2 separate regions of the Homo sapiens genome follow, and region 1 is reported to be linked to region 2. Evidence: microRNA targets listed by miRTarBase, many of them from high-throughput screens and not tested one by one. Region 2 holds a microRNA gene; the other region holds the end of a gene's coding sequence.

Region 1 (4,530 bases), not on the chromosome of region 2:
TAATGGGAGGAGGAGGAACTGTAATGACTCTTTGGGTTTCTGGGTATCAGACGTTAACTTGGACCCTGACGTATCCAGGTATTCCTCTTTCCCCAGGGTAGAGCCACCTGAGTAAATGGCCATAGATCCTTTAGAAAAAGAATGAGGGGATCATTACTGTGTACACCTGCTGAAATGTTGCAGGAAACTTTCCCCTAGGATACAGTCACCTCTGCAATTAATGAGCTCTAGGTCAGAAAACTGAACTAGAAACTGGCAAGGAATCATGTTTTTGTTTTTTAATTGGAGTGATCTCTCTCAGTCCCCTGCTCATCAATTCTTGCTCACTTTTGATTATATATAAAGCCTTACCCTTGTTGATTAGTCAGCTCTTTTGTCCCTAGGAATGCCTTGTTCTACCAACTATTTCCATGAGACTTTACAGGTCAGGACCCCTCGGCTGCCATTTGGAGCTTAGTGGTTAACAGGATACTGATGGCACCCTGGCTTCTGTGGCTGGCACTGCCACCTGGGCTCTTCAAGGTCTCATCATCATCCACATTGCTCTCAGCAAGTGAAGTTCCATCACAGCCCTTCCTGCCAGCCCCAGCCTGCCGAGGAGAGCCACCGCTGAGCTCCTTTATGATGCCCAAGCCCGCTTATCAGTGCATTCCCAGCAGCCTTGCTGAAGGATGGGTCCCCTGGGCCTTCCCGTGGAACATAATTGTCTGATGGGTCACCTTGCCTCATATATCCATGCTGGCATGCTCCCTTCCCTGAGCCTTCTCATTCCTTTCTCTATTGTTTGTCCCAGCCATTCAGGCATTTCAACATTTTGATCACTCTTTCTAGGCTTCTACCAAGCTGCCCTAGAGCAGTGAGTCTGTATTATCTCCTGGCATTTTTCTCATGGTGTGAAATCCTCTATCCTGAGAGCCCCAAGTCAATATACCCTCTCCTTTATCTAGTTGTATAAACCCAGCCCCTTTGACCAAGCACCCTCAGGATCCAGTCCCAAGAGTACGCCCCTGGCCCCTGCAGTACATGCTGCCAGGTTAGGTGGCTCCTCTGGCATAGATCCCATTTCTCCCTCATCAGACCCCTCAGCCGCAATCAGTTATGTTGTGACTTAAGTCTCGTTATAGGCCTGGTAGCCAGGAGAAGGGGAGGGACCAGTCCTGAGGGACACCTTTTGCTTCATGGGGAAAGACCTTGGACACTGTCTTCCCTTGTGTTAGGGAAGAGGCAGGAAGGGAGGGTAGTTCCAGCTCTTCATGGGGAAGGGTGGGCCTCTTCTGAAGGATGTGAATATTCAGGGAGTTTTCTAGGGAGGCAGATGGTTGGGGAGATCCACTAAATGCTCCCATCCCATGTTTTGGGATCCCAAGTTTGATTCCAACCTTGATCTAACAGACCTGGCTTGGTTGAGTATTTGTTGGCTGTTAGCTACTTTTACCATCAAATCCTGTGCTTGGCCTTCAGCTTGCTCTGCTTGGCTACAGCATGAGATGAGGATTGTTGGCAAGCTACCACAGAGACTCTGCGGCTCACACTTAGTTTTGTTTGTTAATTGACCTCAGCTTTTCATTATCCACTTGCAGGACGTCAATCCAACTCAGCAATAACCATGGAAGCCCACTGTCCTTGTCTCTTTTATCCACCCTTCCCATATTTGAGACACCCAAATCACCCACCAGTCATTGCGTTCCCCTGCACCAGCATGCCATTTCATCTGAAGTCTTCATCACTGGACAGCCTTCTTGTGCCAGGGACTGTCTGTGCCACCTATCCACCAGGGATGGGGGCCTCCGAGCCAGCCAGACAGTGAGTCACTCAGCCTGCAAATGCTGTCTTACCACCTACGTTCGTGGGCCACTGGTACCAATTGTGCCAATTTTAGGCTGAGATGGAGTTAGGAGTACAAAACTGGTGAAGTGACATCTCTGAAAGGAAAAGGGAAAAGCAGGATTGAGCAGAGGAACGGTAGGATCTAACAAAGTCTCTAGCAGCCCACCAAAAAGCTCCAGAGCAGAGACTGCTTATTAGAGGGCTTTCGAGTTGGTAGAAATGACTAGGACTTTTTTTTTTCTTTCTGAGACAGGATCTTGCTCTGTCACCCAGGCTGGAGTGCAGTGGCATGATCAGGACTCACTGCAACCTCCGCCTCCCGAGCTCAAGCAATCCTTTCACCTCAGGAGCTAGGAATACAGGCGTGTGCCACCACGCTTGGCTAATTTTTTATTTTTTGGACAGACAGTCTCACTAGGTTGCCATGACTCGTCTTGAACTTCTGGGCTCAAGCAATCCTCCCACCTTAGCCTCCCAAAGTGCTGGAATTACAGCTGTGAGCCACTGCACCTGGCCTAAATGGCTAGGTCTTATACCACCACCTTGCTCAGTTATTGGCTGGGAATTGCCAGAAAAAAGCATGCTGTCAGCTACCACTGCCTTGCTCAGTTGTAGACTAGGTCCCTCTCTCCCACAGAATAGTGTGTCCTTATCTTGAAATCTGGCGTGGACCCTGAAGACGGTAACGGGGAGACTGTCGGCGAACCACACCCCTCACAGCTGGGCGGCTGGTACTTTCTTGAAGGTGAATTTGAGTGGCACACCTCACGTTGTCTGCCACCACTTCAAATCCTGAATAAAACTGACCATCCTTTGGCCACAGTAGCAATTAAGTACCAGAAACAATCAATGACAATTTCCCATCAGTAACCTCACCTCCAAACTAGGCTTCTAAATCATGCTAATCAGCAGCGGCCTCACTCTGGTAACTGCATCCCCACAACTAAAGCTCCCTCGACTCCTAAATGCTTTTGAAAGTCTGTTAATCCTTCCTAAAACCCTGCATAAGGTCCGCAGTTTTCTTTATCCGAGAGACCGTGCCCTACAAGAGCAGTGCTCTCTTGCTCAGCAAGCAGTGTGTGCAGCTTTTTGTTCTGGGTACTGAACGTGGCCTCTCCCTTTAACACTGTCACCTCTGCCCAAGATGCTCCCCTCACCTCTGCCCCTGGCTTTCATCTGACTCATCCTCGTCATTCAAGTCTCAACTGTCTCTTGAGAGGCCTTTGCTGACCACCTTATGTGATGTCCACCACACCCTACCTAACCACACTCTACCCCACTGCCCTATTCTGTTCTTCATCACACTTGCCAATTTCAAGCATCTTATTTGTGTTGAACTCCCTCACCCTCTAGAATGTAAACTCCATGAGGCCAGGGGCCTTGTCTGTGGTGTTCACAGTGGGAGGGTGAATGAAATAGTTAAGGAGGTGGAAAGATGTTGTTGGAGTTAGTGAAGAGGAAGTCAGTGATGAGGGGCTTGGGACACAGGTTTTCTTACCACCACCTCCCAGTCCTTAGCAGAGTGCTTGGAACATAGCAGGGACTCCCTACAATGAGTTAAAGAATGAATGAAAATACGTGACAGTTCAGGGAAATGTTTAGGGGAAAAAGCAAGATTTTTAGGGGGTTAAGTGGAGACCAGAAAGAAAGGAATGAATTCATTACATTTAAATGGAGTTACATGGAGTATTCTTGTGCAGTGGGGCAGTGGGAGGATGCAGGAGGGAAAGTAATACATACAACAGAGAATGTAATGGTGGCAGCCACAAAAGACAATTTGATTTTTGTGTCCAGCTGAATTTCACCTCTCCGGGCCTGACAGCCTAGGGGTTCCACACAAGATAAATAATTTTAACATTTTATTGATACTATCTGGAGGGGATATCATCCAACTGACACAAATCCAAGAAAAAAAAAAGGGAATATGATTGTGATGCAGTGAAGGAGGGAAGTGACATGAAATTTCCCTAGATCCTCACAGAAATAAAGACCACGATAGTTATGACCGATTTATATGTTTACAGACTACTGTCCTCTGTTACCTGTGTATGTAGATAAAACTTCAAGCATTAAAAAGGCACATTGGAAATAAGCTTAATTAATAGTAGTACTCTCAATAGAAGACACTAGACACGCACTTTACTTATAGGTCATGTTGATGTCTATGATAAACAGATGTTTTGCCTCTGACAGCAGAACTTCCTTTCATTTTTCTCATTCGTTTTCTTTGGTGGGTTCATTTTTTTGAATCAACCACACTTCATTATTTCTATTAAGCAATTTGACAGGACTGTTGTAGCCTGCAGTGTAGTAAACCTTCTCATCGAAAACTTTTCCATCTTCCCTTAAAATGCTTGCTAATGTCAAAAGTTGTTCTTGATTCTTTTGGGCACTAGAAAATCCATCGAAAGACCTACAAAGGAGAAAGGAAATAACCGTGAATGATTTTAATACTGATGTGAATGTCAGTCTGAAGCAAAAAGCGGGCGCTAGTACCGTGAATGCTGAGTGAAGTGCAGCTCCAAAGTTACTCCCTCTCGGCCAGGCGAGGTGGCTCACACCTGTAATCCCAGGACTTTGGGAGGCCAAGGTGGGCGGATCACTTGAGGTCAGGAGTTCAAGACCAGCCTGGCCAACATGGTAAAACCCCATCTCTAATAAAAATACAAAACTTAGCCAGATGTGGTGGCGGATGCCTGTAGT
Region 2 (4,000 bases):
TTTGCTAACAACAATCATATCAAGGCAATCTCATTGTTGCCCACAACTGAATAGACTGGAGGTTCACAGGAGTATGGCAGACACAGAGTATCTTCACTATTGTGAGTCACTTGAAAAATATTCTCATGATCTCTCTGTTAAACCAAAGGTACATTGTGAGCTGAATGATCAGATATAGGGCATTCGAGTGCCCTTTTAGTTAATTAAGCAACACCCTTGCGTTGTGGATGAATGGATCATATGTAACTAGAAGGATCAAACTGGAGTTAACAGCAGAGCACTCTGTCCCTGGTGTTAGCCTCGCCCGTAGTTTTAGCAGGGGCTTGAGGGAGAACATACCATGTTGATCTCATCTACATGCCTCACAAACCTGCGTGTGATGGCTAATATGTTGGCATTCAAAATCAGAATTCCAACCTCTTGACATGTAGAATGAACTAAAAACAACAAATTATTTAACAGAAATAAATATAAAATCATGAACATAAGTTACAAATTCTACTCTACAAACAAAAATAGAGAGAACTTGCTTGATTTCAGTTTTTGTGGAAAGACTTGCCTGCCAACTCAGAATAAATCAACCATATAATGAGGCTGTCCCAAAGCTAAAACAATAGTGGGGCTGTGGCAATATTCTGTTCTGAACAAGTAAGGAAATTCTTCCTCTGTTTCAGTGCTGGTTAGACAGCATACAGATGATTGTTTTGAACAGGTGTTAGAAAGCTGTCCAGATCTTCAGAGTTCTGAAATGTTCATAGTGAGAATAATCAAATGGGCCAATGTTTCAACCCTAGAAACAGTTTTGAGAAATATAATCTAAATTATCTTCTTCCTATTTGGAAACACATTAAATTAACTTATTCTCTATTTAGAAACACATTAATCTTTGAATCTAGCCAGTCTCACCATGCTTACCAGTTATCCACAGCACTAGGCCCACAGGATGCCAACAGGTGCCAGTTACAAGAACTAGGAAATGAGAAGTATCAGGTATAGGTACAAAACTTCTTTGGGGTCGGCATGATGGCTCACACCTGTAATCCCAGCACTTTGAGAGGCCGAGGCAGGTGGATCACCTGAGGTCAGGAGTTGGAGACCAGCCTGGCCAACATGGTGAAACCCCATCTCTGCTAAAAATACAAAAATTAGCTGGGTGTGGTGGCGCACACCTGTAATCCCAGCTACTTGGGAGGCTGAGGCATGAGAATAGCTTGAACCTGGGAGGTGGAGGTTGCAGTGAGCCAAGTCTCTAGCTCAGTGCACTGAGCTAGATGCGCTCTAGCCTAGGCGACAAAGAGAGAGATTCCATCTCAAAAAACAAACAAACTTCTTTGTGGTTGGCATGATGGCTCACACCTGTAATCCCAGCACTTTGGAAGGCCAAGGCAGGAGGATTGGTTGAAACCATGAATTTGAAACCAGCCTGAGCAACATAGTGAAACCCCTTCTCTACAAAAAATTTTTAAAATTAGCTGGGTGCAGTGGTATGTGCCTGTAGTCCCAACTACTTGAGATGCTAAGGCTGGAGGATCACTTGGGCCCAGAAGTTCAAGACTGCAGGGAGCTGTGATTACACCACTGTACTCCAACCTAGGTGGCAGAATAAGATCCTATCTCTAAAACAAACAAACAAAAACCTTCCATGCAACATAGGGCTTAAAATCAACCCAGCAGCCATGTCAGAAGTGTGGCAAGAGAATGTGGCATGAGTGAGATTGTCTTAAACCACCAATGGAAATGTTATTCAAGGTGCAAGTCCTACTAACAGGAGGTCACAGCAATGTCGTCAAAACTCATATCTCGGTGCCCTAGGCCAGTACAGGAGAGACTTTCCTACTACCCTTGATTATAATTTTGACTTGTGTCAAGGATTTGCTTAGCTGAAGATCATAAAATGCCGTTACATTACATGTAACTATTATTTATTTAAGATGAAGTTTGTTTATGCCAAGGCTATTTTTTCATTACATTTTTAGAAATTAGAAAAATATATAGAAAAAGTTAGTAGCATAAATAATAAATAACTCACTTTAATTCTGACTTTTTCAGTCATTAAATATTTTAATTAATAATCTCCAAGCATGGTGACCCAGCCAGGCTCCAGCACCTTCCTGCAGCCTTCCCCAGGCCAGGAGGCAAAGGCAGGTCAGCAGTTATCTGCAGAAGGAGCAGCTGGCCCCACCCAGGTCCAGAAGGTGCGTGGCAACCCAATCAAGCCTCAATGCCCTGCCTAAGGCTATCCCTGGCCCAGGGGTAAGATCAAGCCCACACACATCTTTGTAGCCTAGTTTCTCCCCCTGCCCATCCCAAATTGCTGAGCAGCAATCCCAGATAACTAACTTTGCCTCAGGGCCTAGCCTGTTGTCCTGCCCAACTACACATTCTAACAACAGTATTTCTCGGCCAGATGTAGGGCATTTGGGTGCCCTTTTAGTTAATTAAGCAATTCCTTCATGTTGTGGGTGAATGGAAGACACAAGGGTATTGCTCTGTGACTGCCTCTGATCAGGCAAAGTTGCAGGCTATTTGGGAAGACAGTCTGCAATTTTGCCTGATCAGAGGCAATCACAGAGCTCAGCCAGCGACTCAACCTGACCATAGAGTTCAGAAAGTGGTCTCACTGGAACGCAAAGCACAGCAAGCAATTCCACTTGACCTCAGTGCACAGAAAACAGCCAAGCCCACCTAGAGAACTCAACACCAAAGTCTGCTTATCTGGGATTGCTACCAACTAGCCCACCTGGAATCCCAGGCTAGACTACATAGTGAAGGTCTGCTACCACCAAAGATCACCTACAAAGACCAAAAGAGGTGGCTGTTTCCTCAACTGCATAGGCACCAATGCAAGGAACAATGATTATGAAAAATCAAGGAAATATGTCACCATCAAAAGAAACTAAGAAAGCTATCATAATGAAATAGGAAGAAGTAAAGATCTAAGAAATAACTGACAAAACTTCAGAATAATCCTCTTAAAGTAGTTTAGGAAACTACAAGAAAATATGTATAAAAATAAAATAAATTTTAAAAACAATTTTCAAAACAAAATGAAAAGTTTAATAATAGAGAAATAGAAAAAAAAGTTTTAAATAGAAATCCTTCTCCCTGAAGTGTGGGTATTTGAAAAATAAAGAAATCCTACAGATAAAGAATATAATACCTGAACTATAATATCAACAGCAGATTTGATTAAGCAGAAGAAAGCATCCGTGATGTCAGAGATGACATTTGAAATTATCTAGTCAGAGGAGCAAAAAGAAAAAAGAATGAAAAGGCTTATGGAAATTATGGGACACCTTCAAGATTCACATATTAGGAATTTTGGAAGATGGAAGAAAAAAGAAGTCAGAAAGCATATTTAAGGGAATATCAGCTGAATATTTCCTAAATCTAGGGAAAGATGACATTCATGCATAGGAAACTCAGAAGTTGCCAATCAAATTCAACCCAAAAGGGGTTTACCAAGATACATCATAATCAAATTGTCAAAAATTCAAAGACAAAGAAAGAATATTGAAAGTAGCAAGAGATGAGAAACATATCATGTTCAAGAAAGTCCCAATATTGCTATCAGTGGATTTCTCAGCAGAAACGATATAGGCCAGGAGAGAGTGGGATGATATATTCAGTGTTGAAGGAAAAAAACCCAAACAAACTGCCAACCAAGCAAAGCTGTCCTTCAGAAATGAGAGGGAAATTAAACTTTCCCAGACAAACAAAAGCTAAGGGAGTTCATCACCACTTGGTCTACTTTTAAGAATTGCTAAAAGGAATTATTTAAACTGAAATGAATGCCTGCTAATTAATAACAAAAAATATGAAAGTAAAAAATTCAATGGTAATAGTTAATACATAGTCATATTCATAATTCATTAATAATGTAAGGGTGGTATATAAAGCAATTTATCATTACTATGAAGGTTAATAGACAAAACTAATAAAAACAATCCTAGCTGTAATTAATCATTAAGAAACAGAAACTACAACAAATGTAAAATTT

The links. Region 2 holds the annotated microRNA hsa-miR-4772-5p (UGAUCAGGCAAAAUUGCAGACU, at 2,537-2,558, opposite strand). A microRNA usually pairs through its seed, bases 2 to 8, with sites in the 3' UTR of a target mRNA and lowers its output. Matches are read on the target gene's strand: a 7mer-m8 pairs with bases 2 to 8, a 7mer-A1 pairs with bases 2 to 7 and ends in A, and an 8mer does both.
Region 1: the mRNA of HEBP2 is a reported target of hsa-miR-4772-5p. Seed matches in the 3' UTR shown: 8mer at 2,118-2,125.

The regions. Positions count from the first base shown.
Region 1 is chr6:138,412,590-138,417,119 of GRCh38, reverse strand. HEBP2 (heme binding protein 2) reads right to left here. Exons shown (of 4, transcript NM_014320.3): 4 at 1-4,240. The coding sequence ends at 4,042. Among named protein-coding and RNA genes, the nearest start is that of HEBP2, 11 kb to the right of the region's middle.
Region 2 is chr2:102,430,858-102,434,857 of GRCh38, reverse strand. It overlaps MIR4772 (microRNA 4772), which reads right to left and starts at 2,569; the gene lies at 2,492-2,569. The region is part of intron 3 of IL18RAP (interleukin 18 receptor accessory protein); the gene reads right to left.